Linked DNA regions of Homo sapiens. The protein of the gene in region 2 purifies or fractionates together with the protein of the main gene of each other region. This does not show direct contact. Each region holds a gene or a part of one and is shown on either strand. Other genes may lie near its edges.

Region 1 (9,578 bases), on a different chromosome or scaffold from region 2:
GAGTGAGACTCAAAAAAAAAAAAAAAAAAAAGGAATATGTGTTTTTTTAATACCAAAAGTTTAACAGAAGATAGCTAACAAATACATGTTTATAAATTAAGTGATTCATGGATTAAAGAGCCAATAATCTACATAGACAGTAAAAGACTATCAAAGTTCAGTGTACAGAAATCAACTGCATTTCTCTACTTTAGCAACAGTTAAAATGTAATTTTCAAAAACTTACAGGAGCATCAAAAATATAAATTACCTAAGTAAAAGATGTGCAATACCTTTGTAGAGAAATGATAAAACTTTTATTAGGACCTTAAAAAGAATTTTAAAAATTGAGAGATGCCATGTTGTTGAATAGGAATATTCAATATTGCAAACTTTTTTCTTCCAGTTGATCTATTGATTCAAAGCAATGACAATCAAAATCCTAATTTTTTTCTCTAATTTGAAAAAGTGCTCCTAAATTTTATGTGTAAGAGCGAAGGGCTAAGGATAGCAGAAACATTTTTAAAGAACCACAAGGTGGGAAATTTGAGTTAAGATGGTATGATATTAGCACAGAGATAGACAGACCAATAAAATAGAACAGAGAGTTCACAGAAAGACCCACATATTTATAGAAGTTTGATAAGTGACAATGTTGGCACTGAGAGTCAGTGGGGGGAAAAGAAGAACTTTTCAAGAAGTTATACTGGAATAATTGTTATCTGTATGAAGAAATAGAAATTAGACTCTTTATCTCACACAGTTCCAGGTAGATAAAAGAACTGAATGTTAAACTATAAATGTTTGGAAGATGTGTAAGTTATATTTTTGACTTTAGAGAAGAAAATATTTTAAAGACAACAGCAGAAACCACAAAGGAAATGACTGATAAATTTTCATTAAAAGACTTAAAGTGAAAAGACAGAAGAAAATATTTTCAGTGCATATAATGGTTAAAATATTCAGAATATAACTATAATAGCTCACCAGAAAAATGGGCGAAAACTTGATGATGCTCAACTTTATTATACTGTAGTAATAAGGGAAATGCAAATTAAAAAAAAAAAAACAACACAATGAGAAACCATTTCACACCACCAAATTGACTTTTAAAAAATCTGACAATAGACTGGGTGCAGTGGCTCATGCCTGTAATCCCAGCACTTTGGGAGGCTGAAGCAGGTGGATCACCAGAGGTCGAGTTCGAGACCAGCCTGGCCAACATGGTGAAACCCCGTCTCTACTAAAAATACGAAATTAGCTGGGTGTGGTGGTGGGTACCTGTAAATCCCAGCTACTCGGGAGGCTGAGGCAGGAGAATTGCTTGAACCTGGGAGGCAGAGGCTTTAGTGAGCTGAGATCACAGCACTGCACTCCAGTCTGGGTGAGTCAGAGGCAGACTCCGTCTCAAAAAAAAAAAAAATCTGACAATATCAAGCATCAGGATATGGGGCAACAGGGACTCATATAGGGGTGTGAATTAGTATAGCTGCTATTGAAAAATAACTCAACATGATCTTGTAAAAATGAAGTTGGGAAGATACACATGACCTATGACCTAGCAGTTCTACTCATAGATACATACTCCTGAGACTTTTCTTGTACTACAGTATAAGGGGACAATCTACAAAGATGTTCATTGTACTGTTTGTAATAGCAAAAATCCAGGAAACAACACAATGTCTATAGATACAGAATGGATGAATAAATTGCAGTATATTCACATAATGGAGTAGCATACAACAGTGAAAATGATTCAGCTACAGCTGTACATAACACAGAATGAAAAACGTGAAGAAATTAACAGTATATTATATACAGAGATAAACTTCAAGGGAATGATAAATATAAAATTCAGAATGGTAGTCACTCAAGGGGAAGGACATACAGGGTTTCAAAGACAGTAATTTTCTCCGGGTAGTGAAAATGGTGTTTGTGGCATTACTATTCCTCATGCCTTACCAATTTCATAAATACTCTTTTTATCTGCAAGATTTACTTTTAAAATTTGCAAAAATTAAATCTTATTGGAAAGATAAAATATTTAGAATTAATCAATAATGAAAGTATTATATAGCTTGATACAACAAAACTTGTGATTTGCAGCTGAGTGCCTAATATGTATCTGGCACTGTATCAACCACTGAGGATGTAACAATAATCTTGCCTCCCTGGAACTTCCATTGTATTTGTAGAAGACAGACAGGAAAATCAGCTTCTGAACTTTACAATGTAGAAGTTGATATGTAACATGGAGGAAAAGAGAATAGGAAATGTTTGGGTGTGGGGCAGGAAGATTTCCTCGAGCACACGGCATTCAGCAAAGACTTGAAGGGGGATGAAAATGTGAGCCATGTAAATATCCAGGAAAAGAGTGTTCCAGACAGAGGGGACTGCTAATGCAAAGGCCCTGGAAGGGATGTGTGCCCAGTGTGTTGAGGAAACACAGCCCAAATGCCTGAAGTAGTGTAAGCAAGGGCAACAGGGACCCTGTCAGGCAATAAAGAGACTTTGGCTTTTACTTTGAATTGAGATGGAGAGAGACTTAAAACATGCTTGAGCAGAGGAGGGAAGTAATCTTTAAACAAACAAACAAACAACAACAACAAAAAAAACAGAATCTCTGCTTCTTGTGTTGAGAGTTGACTGAAGGGGCCAAGGGCAGAAGCAAGGACACCAATGTATTACAGTGTTCCAGCAGGGAGATATCAGTGGCATAGACCAGAGTGGGAGTGTAGAATGGGTAAGAAGTGGTCATAGTGTAAGTATATAGTCACATGCTGCATAATGACGTTTTGGTCAATGACGGGCTGCATATACGGCAGTGGTCCCATTAGATTATAATACTGTGTTTTTACTGTACCTTTTCTATGTTTAAATGTGTTTAGATACACAAATGCTTATCATTTTGTTACAATTAATTGCCTGCAGTATTCAGTACAGTCACATGCTGCACAGGTTTATAGCCTAGGAGCAGCAGGCTGTACCACAGAGCTCAGGTGTGTCCTATCGGGTTCAAATCAGCCTATTTATGCTAACTCCAACCAGCTGAGAAGTTTCACAACGAATCAGTGCCAATTAAATGCTTAGGAATTCACGATTTATTGTGTGGCTTCTACACAACAATCATGTAACTCTATCCAACACACATAGGCATTAATAGAGAAGGGAAACACAGCAAGTATTCTGGGAGACCAGCACACTGACTGAGAAAACCAGGTTTGGTTTTCCTCAGAATGCCCACTGACCTGGTGGTGGGTAGCTGCTCTTTTCCCAGAGGGCTTACCACAGCCAAAGGAAAGGAGGCCTCAGAGTTCTCATGGGCAGAGATTCTGCAGGCATCTCAGCCATGATTGGCTTTTACGGCTCTCCACAGACATCTCCATGGCCATTATCTTCAGCTGACTTTTGGCTTTACTTTCTTGTCAGGTGTCAGGGATGCCTGGCCACAGCAGATGCTATCTTATCACCTCAGTCCACCACACATATGCTTACTACTCTGAGTGGTCAGTGATTTCACTGTAAGCTGAGTCACTTGTCATAAGTGACTCCATTATGAGACATTTATGATCATAAAACATAATTATATATCAGTGCATAATAGGCTATACCATCTAGGTTTGTGTAAGTGCACTCTAGGATGTTTACACGTGACAAAAATCACTTAACAACATATTTTCCAGAACACATCCCTGTCATTAAGCAATGCATGACTGTATTTTGAAGGGTTTACTAACTGATTAAATGTGGGCTAGGAAAGGAAGAGACGAAGATTATTTCATTTCTGCCTTGGTAACTGAAAGAATAGGGTTATTGTGAACTGAAATGTAGGTGACTATAGAAAAGCAGATTTGAGGGGGAAATTTGAGGAACTCAGTTTTGGAGTGTTAAGTTTCAAGATGCCTTTTAGACATCCAAGTAGATATGTATAGTAAGCAGTTGGTTATGTCTTGAGGTCGGGGCAGAGATCTGGACTAGACATATAAATTTGAGAGCCATCGACAAAAAGAAGATATTTAAAGACATAAGATCGAAGGTCTTACTTAGAAAATAGTTCACATAAAAAGGAGGTTTGGAGACTGAGTCCAAGGCACCCCAATATTAAGAAGTTAGCAAATTAAGAGAAACCTACAAAGGAGTCTTAGAAGAAGTGGCCAAAGAGGTGGGGGAAAACCATGGTTTGTATTAGTGATCTTGAAAAAGTAGTATTAATGGAAAGAAGGGAATGAAAGCTTGATTGAAATGGGTTTAAGAAGATAGGAGGAGGACGTGTAATCTCTTGAGGAGTTTTTCTACGAAAGGAAATAGAAATGTTTTAAGTAGGGGGGAAGTGAGGTCAAGAGAAAGCTTTTTAAAAAATAACATCATATTTGTATGCTGATGACAGTAATCTAGAAGAGAAAATTTTGTGTAGGAGAGAGGCCTGGAAAGAAGTCCTTAAGAAGGCAGGACTCTAATATGCAAGAGAAGGGGTTGCCCTTAGATAGAAATGTGCACGTCCTTCTGCAGACTTTGGAGGGAAGACAGAATATATGTGTACAGATTATTGTATGCAGTAGATACAGTAGTGTAAGCTTGTGGAAGTTCTCATCTGATTGCTCCTATTTGCTCGTTGAAATAGGAACCTAGGTAATTAATTAGCTGAGAATGAAGATGGAGAAGAAAGTGTTTGAGGTTTGAGGAGAGAGAATTATGAAACAGCCATCCAAGAGAATGGGAGAATAAATGAGCTAAGGAAATATGATTGCCAGATGTGGTTCACTTTGAGGTTTGCTGAGGTCATGAATTTGAAGCAAGAATAGATATTTCAGTAGATATTACTAATGCTTTGTCCAGATCCTCTTGGATCCCTTTCTAGTGTTGCTGTACATGTCCTGCCTTTGTTGGTTTTTGCTTCCAATAAACAGCATCTATGCCTCTTTTTTTGGTAAACTGCCCTCAGGCTATTGGAGCACCCTTTGCTCTTACTGTTGTAGTACCTGAGGTGGACCTTAACCAATAGTGATTCAGAAGTATGAAATTTTCATTATCCTTGCTTCAGAGACATGTTTTGAACTTTGACACGGCAGAGTTCCCCCATTACCTTTACCCCCACCTACACACTGGTGAGATCAGGCTGAAGCTACCCTCTAAGGGACTTTGTCTTAGATCACACCTTTGCTTAGCTTTCTCCCCTTTCTTGACCTGCTTCCCCAAATTTCTTATTAGTTCCCCAAACATTTCCTTAATAAGTCACTTGTATATAATTTTTTTTCTCATGATCTGTTTATTGGGAACCTAACCTAAAACAGTAATTATGACTGTATGTGTCTTTCTTCAGCTATGGCCAGTTATATCAGTGTAAGCAAAAAAAAAATGGATTTAACATGGATGGGAGTTTTGCCAAGCAAACACCATGAAGTGAGGAAAGGGCAAGTGAAGTATACTGAAGGTGTATTCAAGGTAGTGGTTATATGATTTGCTATCAAATTTAACCTAGTTAAGGAAAGATTTATTAGTCTGTTCTCATATTGCTAATAAAGACATACCCGAGACTGGGTAATTTATAAAGGAAAGAGGTTTAATGGACTCACAGTTCCACATGGCTGGGGAGTCCTCACAATCATGGCAGAAGACAAAGGAAAAGCAAAGGGATGTCTTACATGAAGTCAGGCAAGAGAGAATGTGTACAGGGGAACTCTCCATTATAAAACCATCAGATCTCATGAGACTTATTCACCATCATGAGAACAGCACAGGAAAGACCCACTGCCATTATTCAATTACCTCCTACCAGGTCTCACCCATGATACATGGGAATTGGGAATTATGGGAGCTACAATTCAAGATAAGATTTGGGTGGGGACACAGCCAAACCATATCATTCCACCCCTGACCCTTCCCAAACGTCATGTCCTCATATTTTAAAATGAATCATGCCTTCTGACAGTCCCCCAAAGTCTTATTTCAGCATTAACTCAAAAGTCCACCGTCCAAAGTCTCATCTGAGACAAGGTAAGTCCCTTCTGCCTATGAGCCTGTAAAATCAAAAGCAAGCTAGTTACTTCCTAGATACAATGGGGGTACAGGCATTAGGTAAATATACCTGTTCCAAATGAGAGAAATTGTCCAAAATAAAAGGGGCTACAGGCCCCATGCAAGTCCAAAATCCAGTGGGACAGTCTTAAAGTTCTAAAATGATATCCTTTGACTCCATGTTCACATCCAGGTCACAGTGATGCAAGAGGTGGGCTCCCACAGTCTTGGGCAAAGGATATGGTCGGGGGATATGAGGTGAATGGCAGTATGATCAATGGATGGTAGGTCAAGTATTGATTGAAGGATTGTTGGAATTGAGGCACTAGCAGGAGTGAGTGGAAAGGTAGGAGGTTAGAGGTAGAAATGTTTAGAAACTAGGATTATTCAGTGCTTTTACTGTTGATATTGCTAAAGTGTAGGGTGTAACTCCTAGAATTACTGGCTGAGATAGTGTCAAGGAAAATATCACTGGTGGAGAAAATTCAAGGAACTGATGGGCCTAAATGTTAAAAGGGACATCTGTGTAGATTTTGAAATCAGTAATTAAGACAGGAGTAGTGTTAATGAGAGTAATAGTGAATTATGCCAAGATCCTTAAGAAATGAGGAGAAATGATCTGAGAGTTAGTAGGTGACTGCAAGAAAAAGGGGTAGAGGGTGGCAGAGTCTCATGGCCTGAGATTCAAAGCTGAGGGAAGAATTTACACAGGAGGGAGAGCAAAGAGTCTGGAAGTAGCAATGAGTTTCAGGAAGGATACAGACTCCATCCAGGCTTACTAGAAGACTGATGTGGGAAAAACATCTACCACTTAAGAAGCCTACAAAGGAAACAGGATCCTCATGGAATATTCAGGTTTTAGTTAGAGCAAGGAGGTGAAGGGTCTATTCAGAGAAGATATTGAAGCTGTATGGAATTGTGAAAGACTGTGAGTTCCAGGGGCACAGTGGAAGGATATCAGGAGTTGAGGGGGTGGAGAAGATGTGGGAGAAAATAGGGAATGTGCAGAGCCTTATGGGAATTACAATGCAGTAAACAAGTATAAAAGGGGAATTTGGGACTTCTGGTATTGATGATATAAAGAGGGATAAAGAACACAATGAAACCAGTTCCGGTGGTCTCAAGGTAGTAGTGCTGTCAGTGATAGGAAATGGGAAGTTGTAGGTATGTATTGGGGCTGGGGAGGGACAGTCTTACACTAAGTTAAGTAGTCTGGACTCACTGTTTTTCTTATTTTTTTAGTGATGCCAACTTTAAAAGCCTTTGTCCTCTATCATGAATTGTACTTTCTACCTATTTATCATGTGGATAAAGTGCAACTGTATTTCCTTACCCTGTGTATATTCAGATATTCAAAATGTCTAATAATATATGAAATAGCAGCCCAAGTATGATTTTTTAAAAAAACTGTCACTAAACTGACTTCCTACAAATCAGAGTAGGATTTCATGACTGTGTGTTCATGTTCAAACTTCATGTTGAGTTTTGGTTGCCTTATTCTGTTTCTGTAGTCATGGTTCCAGAAGACACACCTCTAGAGGATGGGCAACCACTTCTAGGGAAGTCCCTAGCAAAGCACCTAGCATGGTGCTAGCTCTGTTACACTGTGATAACGGCAGGGTTTTTACCCTCTCCAGCTCTTTTGGCTGATGTTAAATTCTTCCTTCTCAGTAATGAGATTCTTGACCAGTCATTGATGACTCCATTGCACTTGTCAGGAGTCTTGTGTTTGACTTCATCTTTGATTCTGCTTTGCCGTCTCTCATTTTTCACTGTGGCCTATTGAATACATAGGATCTGAGCAACTTCTTACAAGAAACTCTGTCTCTTTGTTTCTCGTTTTCCAGCTTTGTACTTCTATGCCTCTTGGACCAAATACTCAGTGTTTCCATGGGCAAACACTGGGTCATTTGTCTTTTAATCTTCTTTTTTCCTGATCTCTTATCAACAGCAAACACATTTGAGATGCTGTTGGCATCAATATAAAAAGTTATTTAAATTTGTGGAAATCCAAAGGGTTTAGGAGGAATGCCCGTGAGTTCAAATTTGCCGGGCTGGTTGTTATCCTTCATCATTGCTCACTCAATTTTGTAAACCTTAATGAGCAAACCTGAAGGGGGCCAGCCCCTCCACACCTGTGGGTATTTCTAGTCAGTCTGGACAAGAGACTGAGAAAAGAAATAAGACACAGAGACAAAGTATATAGAAAGAAAAGTGGGCCCAGGGGACCGGCGCTCAGCATACGGAGGACCTTCACCAGCACCAGTCTCTGAGTTCCCTCAGTATTTATTAATTACTGTTTTCACTGTCTCAGCAAGAGCAATGTGGCAGGACAGCAGGGTGATAGTGGGGAGAAGGTCAGCAAGAAAACATGTGAGCAAAGGAATCTGTGTCACAAATAAGTTCAAGGGAAGGTACTATGCCTAGATGTGCACGTAGGCCAGATTTATGCTTTTCTCCACCCAAACATCTCAGTAGAGTAAAGAGTAACAGAGCAGCATTGCTGCCAACATGTCTCACCTCCCACCACAGGGTGGCTTTTCTCCTATCCCAGAATTAAACAAATGTACAATTGGGTTTTATACCGAGACATTCAGTTCCCAGGGGCAGGCAGGAGACAGTGGCCTTCCTGTATCTCCACTGCAAGAGGCTTTCCTCTTTTACTAATCCTCCTCAGCACAGACCCCCTACGGGTGTCGGGCTGGGGGACGGTCAGGTCTTTCCCATCTCACGGGGCCATATTTCAGACTATCACATGGGGAGAAACCTTGGACAATACCTGGCTTTCCAGGGCAGAGGTCCCTGCGGCTTTCCGCAGTGCATTGTGCCCCTGGTTTATCGAGACTGGAGAATGGTGATGACTTTTACCAAGCATACTGCCTGCCTGTAAACATTTTGTTAACAAGGCACATCTTGCACAGCCCTAGATCCCTTAAACCTTGATTCCATACAACACATGTTTCTGTGAGCTCAAGATTGGGGCAAAGTTACAGATTAACAGCATCTCAAGGCAAAGCAATTGTTCAGGGTACAGGTCAAAATGGAGTTTCTTTTGTCTTCCCTTTCTACATAGACACAGTAACAGTCTGATCTCTCTTTTCCCTACACAAACCAAACTGGTTGTCAGAGTAGATAGTTAGTGAAGGTCTGAGTCTGTTCAGTGGTTTTATTAAACGCACTTGGTCAGAATAGTCATGATTCCACTAGTCATGATTTCCACCAAAGGAAAAGGAGTAAAATTAAAAAGCAGCAAATCCTAAATATTTTCAAATCTCTGCACAAGGGATAAGTGGCTTCCTGGATATCCACAAACACAACTGATTCCCTTATCAGGGCCTATGCTTTTTTTTTTTTCCAGTTCCTTTCTGTTAAAAAATTCCTATAGGAATTTCTGAGTTTCTAAAGCTTAGAGATGCAGGTAGATGCACCCTCTAGGATGATGCCATGAGTCTGAGACTTGTTAACCGTGATATAAATAAAGGGTTAAAAATCTTTTCTCCTGCTCTATGGATAAATTTATTTAATTTTCTAGCTCTGTAATTCTGAAAACTTGGTAAAGGTGGCATATCAGATGTGTTTCCAGG
Region 2 (5,667 bases):
AAGGCATAAGCCACCATGACTGGCTAATTTTTGGTATTTTTAGTAGAGATGAGGTTTCATCATGTTGGCCAGCCTGATCTCAGGCTCTTGAGTTCAAGTGATTTGCCACACCCAGCAGCGTTTGTTTTTTTTTTTTTTGGAGGTGAAGTCTCGCTGTGTTGCCCATGCTGGAGTGCAGTGGCACGATCTCGGCTCACTGCAAGCTCTGCCTCCCGGGTTCAGGCGATCCTCCTCCCTCAGCCCCCTAATAGCTAGGATTACAGGCACAGGCCACCACGCCCGGCTAATTTTTGCATTTTTAGTAGAGACGGGGTTTCACCATGTTGGCCAAGCTGGTCTCGAACTGCTGACCTCAGGTGATCCACCCACCTTGGCCTCCCAAAATGCTAGGATTATAGGTGTGAGCCACCGCTCCCAGCCCCTAGCTGTTTTTTTGTTCTGTTTTGTTGTTTTTTTTAAATAGAGACGAGGTCTCACTGTGTTGCCCAGGCCATTTTTAAATTCCTGAGCTTAAGTGATCTTGGCATGACCTCCCAAAATGCTAGGATTACAGGCATGAGCCACCATGCCTGGTGATCTGTAATATTTAAAATAATACTAATCTCATAGTTTGGTTAATCTTCAGGCTAATGTGGAAATGTGAGTGGCATGTGGGCATGTGCTAGAATAATCTTTCTCCTGTAGACACCTTCGACAACCTGGCATTCATCCCAAGACCCCTAATAAATTTAAGAAGTATAGTCGACGTTCATGGGACCAGCAAATCAAACTCTGGAAGGTGGCTCTGCATTTTTGGGATCCTCCAGCGGAAGAAGGATGTGATTTGCAAGAAATGTATGTCTTTATTGCATTCTTGTCCTGTGATTCTCTGATTGGTCCAGTGACTGGAGCAGCTGCGCACCACTGGGACAGGAGGTCTGGTGCCAAGTCCCCCAGCAGCTGTTGGGGAGCAGAGCAGCTGCTGCAGCTCGGTGCTGAGTTCTTCTGTACTGGGAGGGAGGCAGCTGGAAGGAAGAGTTTGCTTCCTGGATTGAATTTATTTTTTCAAGCAAAGTCAATCTGGGAATACAGTTTTTGTTTGTTGTTTTGCTGTTTTTGTTGTTGTAGTTGTTTTTCCCCTAAAAATTACAATAATCTCTGGAATTTGTTTTTTAAATATAAATATCCTAAAAAGTATTTGAGTCATTTCGGCTCAACCATGAAAATAAAAGTTCTTAATTAAGGAAGGAAGGCTTTCTTTCTCTGTTGGCTTTTTTTTTTTGGGAGATGCTCTGTCACCGAGGCTGGAGTGCAGTGGCGTGATCCCGGCTCACTGCAACCTTCACCTTCTGGGTTCAGGTGGTTCTCCTGCCTCAGCCTCCTGAGTAGCTGGGATTACAGGCACGCGCCACCACGCCCAGCTATTTTTTGTATTTTTAGTGGAGACGGGGTTTCACCATGTAATTCCTGACCTTGTGATCTACCCGCCTCAGCCTCCCAAAGTGCTGGGATTACAGGGGTGAGCCACTGCTCCCAGCCCCGTTGGCCTTTAAACTTGTGCCTAGTTGAAATGTCTCAGGCCTGAACTTTTGCTGCATCATGGCAATACCTGCTGACCAGGAAGGTAGAGAGAATGATCGTGTACCTCCCTCCCTCTATGTGGGGTTTCTTCTCAGCTCCCCTCTGGTCCTGAGCCTCTCGCTTCCTCAGACACATTCTTTAAACAAACAATTAGAGTTTCTCCTCTGTGCTGGGAAATTTTTTAGAGACTGGCATGTTTGAAACGATTGTAAGTGGCTTTACCAGTTTGTCCTGACAGATGTCATTTGGGTTTTTTCCCCCAGTGTGACACCATTGTCCCATTCTCTGAGTAGAAACTTGGAAAAATTAGTGATAATGCATAGTATGTTCATCACAGTGCTCATTTCTCCCCCTCAAAAATTGGGCTTATGAGTGTTTCTGTTTCCAAGGATGCTTGTGTGGTGAGCCCAGCAGATCTTTTTGTTGCTTCTCATTGCCATCCGCTTTCTCTTTGCTGGATTGATTGGGCTGGGATTAAGTCTGTCAAATAGTCACTGAAAGCTGACCCCTCAGGGAGCCTCGGGCACACTGTCAGTGTTGTGGCTGTACCATATGGATGGGGTTTGTCTGTAGCGCCCCGTCTCCTGGCTTTGTTAAGTTAGTGCCTGACGCACATGTTGGATCTTGTTTAACAGACACCCTGTAGACCTTGAATCTGCAGAAAGCAGCTCCGAGCCCCAGACCAGCTCTCAGGATGACTTTGTAAGTACTTTGGATAAGTCTTTCAGCTTGGGGGTTGCAGGTGAATTGTTAATAACACATGCTGCCTTATAAACTGAAGTTTGGACTGGGCACGGTGGCTCACGCCTGTAATCCCAGCACCTTGGGAGGCCAAGGCAGGCGGATCACCTGAAGTCAGGAATTCAAGACTAGCCTGGCCAACATGGTGAAACCCTGTTTCTACAAAAATACAAATAATAGCCAGGTATGATGGTGGGTGCCTGTAGTCCGTGCTACTCAGGAGGCTGAGGTGGGAGAATAGCTTGAACCCAGGAGGTGGAGGTTGCAGTGAGCTGAGATGGCGCCATTGCACTCCAGCCTGGGCAACAGAGCAAGACTCTGTCTCAAAAAAAAAAAAAGAAAGAAAACCATGTGCTGCGCGTGGTGGCTCACGCCTGTGATCCCAGCACTTTGGGAGGCTGAGGCAGGCAGATCACCTGAAGTCAGGAGTTCAAGACCAGCCTGCCCAACATAGTGAAACCCAGTCTCTACTAAAAATACAAAAACTAGCTGGGTGTGGTCATGCAGGCATGTAATCCCAGCTACTCAGGAGGCTGAGGCAGGAGAATCACTTGAACCCGGGAGGCAGAGGTGGCAATGAGCCGAAATTGTACCACTGCCCTCCACCCTGTGTGACAGAGTGAGACTCTGTCTCAAGAGAAAAGAAAACCGTTTTTAAATGTATCAGTTTAAATACTGTCTCCTGTCCTGAGACAGCCACTATTTGTGGTTTTGTCTAGGCTTTTACAATTCTTTCTGTGCTTATAAACTATGTACATGGCCAGGCACAGTGACTAGTGACTCCTTCCTGTAATCCCAGCACAATGGGATGTGTGCACATCTAAACGTCAGTGTCTTGTAAATGGTACATGTGGTTTCTCTTTGCAGTGTTATTATTAAAATCTGTCTCAGTTGCACGTGAAGTGTACACCTTGCTGTGCATTACATCACATGATTTACCACATAAGGAGTGGGGTGTAGGAAGGGGCCCCTGTTTTCAGGGTGAGATGAATGTCAACCGAGCCATGCTTCTGTTTTCCAGGATGTGTACTCTGGCACACCCACCAAGGTGAGACACATGGACAGTCAAGTGGAGGATGAGTTTGATTTGGAAGCTTGTTTAACTGAACCCTTGAGAGACTTCTCAGCCATGAGCTAACTGCCCCCTGGCGGCCAGGAAGAGAAACAGCTCCTCCCCGACTAGGTGGAAGGCTGGCCAGGCACCAAGCATGTGTGTGCACTTGTACCTGGTGGTTTCTCTGTTAGCAGTCCATTAGCTCATGCTGAATTATTTTTGCCTTACTTTCTTAAGAAACATTAATTTTATGTATAGTGAGTATATTTTGCATGTTTTAAATTGTAAATGGAGCTAAGTCCAAGAAAGTACTTGAAGCTCTCTTCCAGCGAGCTTAATTGCGTAATCCCTGTTGTCCTCCAGGGTAAGCTGACACGTCTACATAACTGGTTTTCCACAGGCATCTTCAGTTATTGCTTGTCAGGTGGACTGTTTTGGATTTAACCATGTAATCCATGGGACCAATTGAGAGTCAGCTACTTTTATAGGCATCAAAGTATTCTCAGACACCTTTAATATCTTTATGGAAACTTAATTTTTGGCCTTTTATCAATATGTCATAACAGCATTCTGAAGTCAGACATTGTTAAATTGAGCTATTAAACTAATGAGTTTTATGTAAGTTATATGGTCTTAATTTGGTACTTGTAAATAGCACTAGTTAGACTCTTTAGAATACTCCAAGAGTTAGGGCAGCAGAGTGGAGCGATTTAGAAAGAACATTTTAAAACAATCAGTTAATTTACCATGTAAAATTGCTGTAAATGATAATGTGTACAGATTTTCTGTTCAAATATTCAATTGTAAACTTCTTGTTAAGACTGTTACGTTTCTATTGCTTTTGTATGGGATATTGCAAAAATAAAAAGGAAAGAACCCTCTTTCACTGACTGGGGCTGTTGCCAGGTGGGCCAGCTGCCGTGAGAGCTGACATGTTTGGAGGGTCAGAATTGTGTCTGCCTTTCTTGTGTCTGAAGCAAGTGGCACTCAGTGAGTGGCGCTGGGTAAAGGGCCTTCTTTATTTTTTTAATTTTATTTTTTGAGAGTTTCGCTCTTGTTGCCCAGGCTGGAGTGCAATGGTGCAATCATGGCCCACTACAACCTCTGTCTCCCGGGTTCAAGCGATTCTTCTGCCTCAGCCTCCCAAGTAGCTGAAATTACAGGTATGTGCCACCACACGCAGCTAATTTTGTATTTTTAGTAGAGACAGGATTTCTCCATGCTGGTCAGGCTGGTCTCGATCTCCCGACCTCAAGTGATCTGCCTGCCTCGGCCTCCCAACGTGCTGGGATTACAGGTTTGAGCCACTGCGTGTGGCCGGGGGCCTTCTTTAATAGGTGTCACATGTCACATTTGGTCTGATGCTTATTCATCAGCACTGGCATGACAGCCTTCCCTGTCTCTTGGGAGAGACCCTGCAGCAGGATAATCATCAGTCTGAGGGTGCCCTGCTCCCACTGCCTTCACCCTTGGACCGTGGTTGCTGCCTGCAGACGTGACCACTAGTCCACGCCACAGCGACCTGTCCCGGAGATCCCTCCAAGTGATGCTGGGCTGGTCTTAAGCCAGGGATGGGCTCAGGTAACTTTGTTCTAGGAGCTTGAAGAGGGCAGAAGCTCTTGTTTACTTAGCTTGTTTATGGAGACCTCAAGCAGTGTCAGGTGGAGGGTGGTAGACACTGGGGTTGTAGCACATGCCCTGGTGAGGAGACCCAGCTCTTTCAGGGTGGTAGGAGGTGCCTGATAAAAGGTGACATCTGGGGAGGGCAGCAAGCAGAGGCCACGAAGTGGGAGCACTCAGCATTGACTTCAAGAGTCCTAAAATGTGGGAGGAGTTCTGGGGGCCTGACTGCAAGCCTCAGTCTTGAGAAGGCAGAGGTGAAGGTCCTTGTTAGATGGTGACAGTTCAGTGGTGCTGTGGCCTCCATCATGACTGACGGAGAGCAGCTCTCCTGGGTTTGTCACTAAGGAGCTACTTCCCCTAAACTGTGAGCAGGTCCTTAGCGATGAGCAGCACTCAGTGCTCTTAGGCTAAAATTCAGTGGCTTCCAAGCAAAAATGACATCCAGAAGACAGCTGGAAAGGTGATCTAAGCTAAAGCTGAGGGTGTGGCATGAAATCCTCTGTTAACCATAGAAAGTTGAACCTTTCTCTCTCTTTTCACTGGAGTGCAGTGGTGTGCCTTCAGCTCACTGCAACCTCCACCTCCTTTGGCTCAAGCAATTCTCCTGCCTGTCTCCTGAGTAGCTGGGATTACAGGCGTGAACCACCACACCTGGCCAATTGTTGTAGTTTTAGTAGAGTTGGGGTTTC
Region 3 (9,578 bases), on a different chromosome or scaffold from region 2:
TTTACATAATCTTTGTTTGGGACAAGAAGCATAGTTCCATCTTTTGTGGCACAGGGAATAGTAACCATTAGATCATCTTCAGATGTAACTTTTATCCTTTTTTTTTCCCTTCAAGGGTGTGTATATAGAATAATTTTTCATCTTATCAAGGCTTCTGTCTTTTTTTCCTTCAGTGGTCCACTGTAGGTGTGCCAAGTGTTTCTGTTATCCTACAAAGCGAAGAATAAGGAGGAGGCCCCGAAACCTGACCATCTTGAGTCTCCCCGAAGATGTGCTCTTTCACATCCTGAAATGGCTTTCTGTAGAGGACATCCTGGCCGTCCGAGCTGTAAGTCCCTGCATGAAAACACTATGAGCCCTAGCATTGTTGATTATACCATCAGGCCTTGTGTTCTTAACTGTCAGAACAAAACTTTGGCTAAAAAAGAGGTTGGGGCAGAGGCCAGGCACGGTGGCTCATGCCTTAATCCTAGCACTTTGGGAGGCCGAAGGGGGGTGGATCACCTGAGGTCAGGAGTTCCAGACCAGCCTGGCCAACTTGGCAAAACCCCCATCTCTACTAAAAATACAAAAATTAGCCGGGCGTGGTGTCTCACGCCTGTAATCCCAGCTACTAGGGAGGCTGAGGCGGGAAAATTGCTTGAACCTGGGAGGCAGAGCTTGCAGTGAGCCGAGATCACATCATTGCACTCCAGCCTGGGCGACAGAGCGAGACTCTGTCTCAAAAAAAAAAAAAAAAAAAGGAGGGCAAAAAGGAAACAAGGATGATATCATTACCAGATGCTTTCTTTAAGACATTCTGATTACAGAAATTCCTACTGCTGTCTCCTAGCACACTAAAATTGCCTCTGTTCATTGCAGTGTCAACAAAGAAAGTACCTTTTTTTTTTTTGAGACAGAGTCTCGCTCTGCCACCCAGGCTGGAGTGCAGTAGCGCAATCTCGGCTCACTGCAAGTTCCGCCTCCCAGGTTCATGCCATTCTCCTACCTCAGCCTTCCGAGTAGCTGGGACTACAGGCACCCGCCACCACGCCCGGCTAATTTATTGTATTTTTAGTAGAGTTGGGGTTTCACTGTGTTAGCCAGGATGGTCTCTATCTCTTGACCTCGTGATCCGCCCGCCTCGGCCTCCCAAAGTGCTGGGATTACAGGCATGAGCCACTGCACCCGGCTGAAAGTACCCTTTTATGGCAGTGAAATTTGCATCCCTTAAAAAATAGGATAGTGTTTAAAAGAATAAGAATACATTCTTGAGGACAAATTCCATGTAACATTTAACACTGAAATGGACTCTAGGAGTTATTTTCTAGATATTGGAACCATAGGCTTACTTTGAGTGACTTAACCTAGAGTATATAGTGGATTCATGGGGAAATGCCAGCAAGAACCCATTTTCTGACTCCCAAAGCCACCTCCATTGCAGGTGCGACACACTTTATGGACCCCAGGGGGTGCTGAATTTCCAATGGCAGTGGAAACTTTGGTGCTTAAAGTGTTCACCTGTGCTCCAGGTCCTGGCCTGGACACTCCTGCGTTGGCCCAGCGCTTAGGCTCCGGGTTCTACCTGAGACCTCCATCATGGGTGTTGTTCTTTGCCCTGAGTCCCTGTGACCTGTTTCCACACTCCCACTAGCAAGGCCTCCAGCGGGGAAGCACAAAACACATTTCCGTCCTGCCTGCCCCCTTTTAGAGTGTTTCCCCTGTCTTTGGGGGTGATACCTTTGCAGGGATGTTGAACCCTCTTTCTCAGCCTAGGTGTTTGTTTCCTCCTTCCCAGATCATTGTCCTCTGCCCTGCTTTAGAACCTCAGAGAAACTCGTTTCTGGGCTCTTTTATCTGCTCAAAGTGACAGTTACTTTCACACAGAGATTGGGGACCTCAACTACTTGGGATGGCGAGGGAGACAGGAGACCCTACATCTGCCTCTCGTCCTCAAGAGCCTCCAGGTGTGGGGCTTTTGGGTGGTGCCTCCATCACCCAGCCCCGGCCCCCGTTGTTCTGCAGGTACACTCCCAGCTGAAGGACCTGGTGGACAACCACGCCAGTGTGTGGGCATGTGCCAGCTTCCAGGAGCTGTGGCCGTCTCCAGGGAACCTGAAGCTCTTTGAAAGGTATCTCTGCACCCTGAGAATGGCTCAGTCTTCTCCTGCCTTGGCCTCCCTATGTGCCAGTCTGTGTCTCACGGCCTGATTCAGCAACGATTTTCCTGTTGCTGTCTCCCATGACATTGCCTCATACCCTGGGGAGTGACTGAGGGTGGCAGACCTCACGCATCAGGCCGCACAAGCCACACACCTTCCAGCAGGCTATGCAGTCAGTCATCCCTCACGCCACTGACACGGGCCCGTGGTGCCTCCAGAGGGCTGTGATCCATTCCCACATGACCCAGACAAGAGTCACCTTCCTGTGGAAACTTCACTCAGCCTTCCTTCCCTTTGGTCAAAACCATCTGAATTCTATCCTATAGCGTTTCACTCACTGGCTGATCCCACCCCAACCTGCACCCCGCACCCTGGCCCCTGTTCACATGTGCTCATGGTCCCAGGTACCCGCCGCCCTCAGAACAAACCAAGGAACCACAGCTCAGGCGGGGATTTTTCTTTTTTGTTGTTGTTTTTTGTTTTTTGTTTTCGTTTTTGTTTTTTTCTTGAGACGGAGTCTCGCTCTGTCACCAGGCTGGAGTGCAGTGGTGCAATCTCAGCTCACTGCAACCACCAACTCCTGGTTCAAGCGATTCTCCTGCCTCAGCCTCCTGAGTAGCTAGGATTACAGGCACGCGCTACCACGCCCATCTAATTTTTGTATTCTTAGTAGAGATGGGGTTTCGCCATGTTGGCCAGGATGGTCTCGATCTCCTGACCTCCTGATCTCAGGCGGGCATTTTTCTGACAGGGATTCGCTGTGAGCCTCGTCCATCTGAGTTGCCAGAAATCCAGATCGACAGCCAACCAGGGCAGGCAGCCATGTTGCCGCGGCCATGCTTGGGCTGCTTCCAGGGGGAATGTATATATTTCTTATTGAGACATTATCCACACATCACACAATTCATCCATTTAAAGTGTATAACTCAGCCGGGTGTGGCGTCACACCTGTATTCCCAGCACTTTGGGAGGCCAAGGCGGGTGGATCACTTGAGGTCGGGAGTTCGAGACCAGCCCGGCCAACATGGCAAAACCCTGTCTCTATTAAAAATACAAAAATTAGCTGGATGCGGTGATGGGCACTTGTAGTCCCAGCTACTCTGGAGGCTGAAGCATGAGAATTGCTTAAACCCAGCAGGTGGAGGTTGCAGTGAGCCAAGATTGCGCCATTGCACTCCAGCCTGGGTGATGGGGTAAGACTGTCTCAAAAAAATAATAATAAAATAATAAAATATGGCTGGGCACAGTGGCTCACGCCTGTAATCCCAGCACTTTGGGAGACCAAGGCGGGCGGATCACGAGGTCAAGAGTTTGAGACCAGCCTGAGCAACATGGTGAAACCCTGTCTCTACTAAAAATACAAAAATTAGCTGGGTGGTGGCACATGCCTGTAATGCCAGCTATTCAGGAGGCTGAGGCAGGAGAATTGCTTGAACCCAGGAGGCAGAGGTTGCAGTGAGCCGAGATCGCACCACTGCACTCCAGCCTGAGCAACAGAGCGAGACTCCGTCTCAAAATAAATAAATAAGTAAATAAATAAATAAAATGTATAACTCATTGGTTTTTAGTATACTGAGAGTTGTACAGACATCACCAGTACTTAACTTTAGAACGTTCTCCTTACCCCAAGAAGAAAGCTTGTCCCCATCAGCAGTCACTTCCCATTTTCCCCACAATCCTGGAAACTCTAGACAACCCCTAATTGATTTTCTGTCTCTCCGGATTTGCCTTTTGTGAGGATTTCACATGGAATCATGCAACACGTGGTCTTTCGTGGCTGGCTTCTTTCACGGACCCTGATGTTTTCAAGGTTCATCTGTGTCATAGCATGTAATGGATAATTCGTATTTGATTACATGTTATTAAGAAATGTTCGACCGAGCGTGGTGGCTCACGCTTGTAATCCCAGCACTTTGGGAGGCCGAGGCGGGTGGATCATGAGATCAGATCGAGACCATCCTGGCTAACATGGTGAAACCCCGTCTCTACTAAAAATAGAAAAAATTAGACAGGCGTGGTGGCGGGCACCTGTGGTCCCAGCTACTCGGGAGGCTGAGGCAGGAGAATGGTGTGAACCTGGGAGGCGGAGCTTGTAGTGAGCCGAGATTGCGCCACTGCACTCCAGCCTGGGCAACAGAGCAGACTCCGTCTCAAAAAAAAAAAAGAAAAGAAAAGAAAAAAAAAAAGAAATGTTCTAGAGCCGGGCATGATGGCTCAAGCCTATAATCCCAGCACTTTATGAGGCCAAGGCAGGAGGATCACTTGGGTCTGGAATTCAAGACTAGCCTGGGCAACATAGCAAGACCCTGTCTCTAGAAAAGAAAATATTTTTTTTTGACTAGCTGAGCATGGTGGCACATGCCTGTAGTCCTAGCTACTTGGGATGCCGGGGTGGGAGAATGGCTTAAGCCCAGGAGGTTGAGGCTGCAGTGAGCTGTGATCGCACCACTGCACTCCAGCCTGGGCAACAGAGCAAGACCCTGTCTCAGAGAGAGAGAGATATATATATATATATGCACACACACACACACATATATATGCACACACATATATATATGCACACACACACATATATATATATATATATATATATATATATATATATATTCAATTCAGGGAACAAGTATTCTGACTTCTTCAAGTGCTGTAGTAGTTCATAACGTTTGTGGCATAAAATATTGTGATGCTTTATGTTCTTAATGTTTCAGGGCTGCTGAAAAGGGGAATTTCGAAGCTGCTGTGAAGCTGGGCATAGCCTACCTCTACAATGAAGGCCGTAAGTCCTCACCCCACCTGCATGTTGGCGCTTCAGATAAGTGTGAGCCTTTGGCCCTATGAAGAAGTGGTCCCCGTGTTAGCAGTTCAGTTGCTGTCCTTGCTCTATCCGATGGCCTGCCTCCCCATTCCCTCTCAGGAGCTCGTGCCCAGATGTACCCTGCTGAGGGACCTGCTAATGATACTCTGACTTTGCAGGTTACGAAAGTCGCCTCTTGTTTTAGCAAACCCTTTAATTTCAGTTGGCAAAGAGTGACTGAGCCAGAGCCTCAGCACGGGGGCTGTTTGGGCTCCCTGCCCTGTGCGCCATGAGCACGCAGACCTGCCTGTGGATGCTGGCCCTCTCCTTGGCCATCCTCTTAGAACTCTCGAGACAGAGTTCAGCGTGCCCTGTAACACAGAGCCAGGCTTCTAAACGGGAAGCAGGTACAGGCAGGTTAGAACTGGCCTGGTGCCTGGATCCCTTCATCCCCAGAGGCCAGGTGCTCCTTGAAAGAAACTTGCGCAGCCTTTTCTTCTACCAGTTAACTGCTTATCTGCTCAGCACCCCAAGGAACGAGCCCATGATCTGTCCCAGCTCTCAAAACAAGTAAACACTGGGATGTAGCCTCCCACATTTGTACTTCTAAACGATCTGGTGTCTTGCTGGGAGAGAGTCCCTACCTGGCCGGCTGGCAGAATTGTGACTGACAGGGACCATGAGCAACACCCTCCTCCAGAATCAGGGGAGCCGAGGTCCTACCCCTACCCTCCCATCAAAGAGCAGTTCCCAGACATAAAATTCACACACCATACAGTTCACCCCTCTAAAGCCTGCAATTCTGTGGTTTTTTAGGATATTCACAGGGTTGTGCAGCCATTGCCACTGTCTAATTTTAGAATATTCTCCTCGTCCCAAAAAGAACCCCCACCCCTGCCCTGGACCCATTACCAGGGGTCAGGCGGTGGTTCCCAGCTGGAGGGAGGGTGGGACATGAAGCGTCGCGGGGTCTCCTTCCCCTGACCTTCAGAATCCAGGCTTCCGGGAGGACCACAGCAGGGGCATTGATCACAATGACCCACCTGTTCTAGACATTAATGAAGTAGGGGGAGAAAAGACAGGTGCCCCCATCCTGGAGGGCTCTACTCTCCTGAAACACAGCTGCTTTGCACTATGGTGGGCTTCAGGCATTACACTTTCCACCAAGACCATGGAGAGCTTTCCACATTCCGTCCCTAAGAGACATCCCTGGGCTCTGTCCTGTCTGTCCCCGCAGTGTCTGTGTCTGATGAGGCCCGCGCAGAAGTGAATGGCCTGAAGGCCTCTCGCTTCTTCAGTCTCGCTGAGCGGCTGAATGTGGGTGCCGCACCTTTCATCTGGCTCTTCATCCGCCCTCCGTGGTCGGTGAGCGGAAGCTGCTGCAAGGCCGTGGTTCACGAGAGCCTCAGGGCAGAGTGCCAGCTGCAGAGGGTGAGTCTGGGCGAGGGGCAGCACCTGCGAGGCCACCTGCAGGGTCCCAGGACACAGGAAGACCCCGAGGGTAGATCCTGGACCCTGGAAAGTCAGGAGCCTAAGGGAAGTGAAGATGCAGAAAACTGAGAGTGCAGATATGGGGAACGCATCTGGAAATCAGCTGGCACAGAGGAGGAAGCCTGAGAGCCAGGGTGGGCTGTGGAGTTCTGGGTACACGTGCTGACAGCTGGAAACATGGGGCTGAGGCTGCATGGGGCAGTGGGAGCTCAAGACACAAATCTGGCCAGGTGTGGTGGCTCACGCCTGTCATCCTAGCACTTTGGGAGGCCGAGGCTGGAGAATTGCTTGTGGCCAGGTGTTCGAGACCAGTCTGGGCAACATGATGAAATCTCGAAACCTCGTCTCTACAAAAAATACAAAAAAGTTAGCCAGGGGTGGTGGTGCATACCTATAGTCCCAGCTACTCAGGAGGCTGCGGTGGGAGGATCGCTTGAGCCTGGGAGGTTGAGCTTGCAATGAGCCGTGACTATGCCAATGCACTCCAGCCTGGGTGACAGAGCAAGACCCTGTTTCCCTTTAAAAAAAAAAAAAAAAAAAGACTGAAATCTGGGAGTGGCCCTCTGCAGGGGAGGGAGGGCCAGACAGCAGGGCCATGGGCATGGGACCCAAAGACAGACAAGGGAGTGGTGGCCCCCGGGCAGTTCTCTGTGCTGGAAATCACACTTCTTTCTCCTTTTTTTAAAGACTCACAAAGCATCCATATTGCACTGCTTGGGCAGAGTGCTGAGTCTGTTCGAGGTGAGTCAAGTTGTTCTCTGCACTGGGACTTTGTGTTCGATACATCCCTAGCCGAGATCCTGGAACTGAAAAGCAGCAGAAGGGGGTGTCCAAGGCCCAAAACAAAAGGCAAGCCTTGCCCAGAAAGGCCTAGCTGGAGAAGCCAGGGGACACATGTGGGCCTGGCCACGGGCTCCGATCCTGGCTCCATGACCCGCCTGGCAGGGGAGTGGGGGACGGTGAGAACAGCAGAGCAGATCTCAAGGAGGCATCGAACCTCGATGCTCACTCGTCTGCTGGCCCTGCTCCTCGTGGGCCTCTCCTGCTCGTGTGGACCTCTCTGCCTGGCCAAAATGGTGAAACCACGTCTTTACTAAAAAACACAAAAATTAGCTGGGCGTGGTGGCGGGTGCCCATAATCCCAGCTACTCAGGAGGCTGAGGCAGGGAGAATTGCTTGAACCTGGGAAGCGGAGGTTGCAGTGAGCCGAGATTGCACCACTGCACTCCAGCCTGGCAACAGAGTGAGACTCAGTCTCAGAAAAAAAAAAAAAAAGTATGGAAAAGGAGGAAGATGGTGAGTAGAGTGATTGAACATCAAGTAAAGAATAAGGGCCGGTCATGGTGGCTCATTCCTGTAATCCCAGCACCTTGGGAGGCCGAGGCGGGTGGATCACCTGAGGTCAGGAGTTTGAGACCAACCTGGCCAATGTGTTGAAACCACGTCTTTACTAAAAAACACAAAAATTAGCCGGGCATGGTGGTGGGCACCTGTAATCCTAGCTACTTGGGAGGCTGAGGCATGAGAGTTGCTTGAACCCGGGAAGCTGAGGTTTTAGTTAGCCAAGATCGTGCCACTATACTTTGGCCTGGGTGACAGAGGGAGACTCTGCCTCAACAACAACAAAAAAACCAGCCAGGCACAGTGGCTCATGCCTGTAATCCCAGCACTTTGGGAGACTGAGGTGGGTGGATCACCTGAGGCCAGGATTTTGAGACCAGCCTGGCCAACATGGTGAAACCCCGTCTCTACTAAAAATACAAAAATTAGCCGGGCATGATGGTGGGCTCCTGTAATCCCAGCTACTCAGGAGGCTGAGGCAGGAGAATTGGTTGAACCCAGGAGGCGGAGGTTGCAGTGAGCCAGGATGGCGCCATTGCACTCCAACCTGGGCGACGAGTGAAACTGTCTCAAAAAATAAAAATGAAAAAGAATAAGGGAACAATGAACTCTGCTGGGATTTATTCTAGGATGAGGAGAAGCAGCAGCAGGCCCATGACCTGTTTGAGGAGGCTGCTCATCAGGGATGTCTGACCAGCTCCTACCTCCTCTGGGAAAGCGACAGGAGGACAGATGTGAGTGGTGCCTGCTCTGGGTCGGGGGGAGTTATGCTGGACAAAGGCGTAGTTGATGCTGGTCCTTGGATGCGTTTCTGTCCACAAAAGGGAGGTGGCTCTTGCTGCTCCCGGTCTCTCAGCCTCCGGGAACCACTGGTCAGTCGGCTATTCTTGGTACCCCCAAAAATGACTCCACCATTTGAGAGAGAAGAGGTGGGAAGTTAGCGTAGTGTCGGCCCTTCTGGGTCTTGGTTCTGAGTTCCTCCCAAGACACAGTTGTACAAAGGCTCGGTGATCTCCCATTGACAGGTGTCAGATCCTGGGCGATGCCTCCACAGCTTCCGAAAACTCAGGGACTACGCTGCCAAAGGCTGCTGGGAAGCGCAGGTGAGGTGCGGGGCTGGGATGACGTGGGGAGCTGGCCTTTCTCCCTCCAGCCTTGGGGCAGGACTATCTGGGCTCCCACATTGGGGGGCAGGACTATCTGGGCTCCCACATGGGAGGCCAGGATTGAGGGACACCCTAAGATCGGTTCAGCACTGGAACTGGTCCTAAAGGACAGGTACACTGTGAGAAGAGCTGGGAAATGCGTTATTCATCTCTGCCTATCCACTCTTGCCTCTCAGCCAGCCAACCTCTTAATTTTCAAATGCTTGTGAGCTATAGCTGCTGTCAAAATTTGTGCCATTCTTGAAAGTTGTCCCATAGGTAGAACTGATCTTGACAACAAAACTTGAGGCTACTTGAGAGCAGAGGGGCGTGGAGAGTCCCTTCCTGCTTCCTCTTCCTGTTAGCGCCTTGCTTGTCATGTCACCTGGTCACCAAGTCATCCAGGGCTACAGGCAGGAAATCAAGCATTGGTAGACTCTCCCCTCACAGCTATAAATAAGTTGTTAGGGCCAGGTGCGGTGGCTCACGCCTGAAATCCCAGCACTCTGGGAGGCCAAGGTGGGCGGATGACCTGAGGTCAGGAGTTCGAGACCAGCCTGGCCAACATGGTGAAACCATCGCTACTAAAAATACAAAAATTAGCTGGGCGTGGTGGCAGGCACCTGATACTCAGGAAGTTGAGGCAGGAGAATCGCTTGAACCCGG

What was found.
Region 1: the proteins of SLBP (region 2) and ACAD11 purify together in Homo sapiens (co-immunoprecipitation; 2 studies listed by BioGRID and IntAct, with this or other methods). This does not show direct contact.
Region 3: the proteins of SLBP (region 2) and CCNF purify together in Homo sapiens (affinity purification with western blotting; 2 studies listed by BioGRID, with this or other methods). This does not show direct contact.

Annotation. Positions count from the first base shown.
Region 1 is NC_000003.12:132,648,320-132,657,897, reverse strand, and holds part of ACAD11 (acyl-CoA dehydrogenase family member 11), read left to right. Parts: intron 1-3,227; exon of another isoform or gene 3,228-3,468; intron 3,469-9,578. UniProt on the Homo sapiens protein: Acyl-CoA dehydrogenase, that exhibits maximal activity towards saturated C22-CoA.
Region 2 is NC_000004.12:1,691,369-1,697,035, reverse strand, and holds the end of SLBP (histone RNA hairpin-binding protein), read left to right. Parts: intron 1-684; coding exon 685-834; intron 835-2,195; coding exon 2,196-2,262; intron 2,263-3,322; coding exon 3,323-3,439; 3' UTR 3,440-4,305; downstream 4,306-5,667. UniProt on the Homo sapiens protein: RNA-binding protein involved in the histone pre-mRNA processing.
Region 3 is NC_000016.10:2,430,957-2,440,534, forward strand, and holds part of CCNF (cyclin-F), read left to right. Parts: intron 1-173; coding exon 174-328; intron 329-2,004; coding exon 2,005-2,111; intron 2,112-4,849; coding exon 4,850-4,917; intron 4,918-6,172; coding exon 6,173-6,366; intron 6,367-7,113; coding exon 7,114-7,167; intron 7,168-8,396; coding exon 8,397-8,501; intron 8,502-8,792; coding exon 8,793-8,870; intron 8,871-9,578. UniProt on the Homo sapiens protein: Substrate recognition component of a SCF (SKP1-CUL1-F-box protein) E3 ubiquitin-protein ligase complex which mediates the ubiquitination and subsequent proteasomal degradation of target proteins.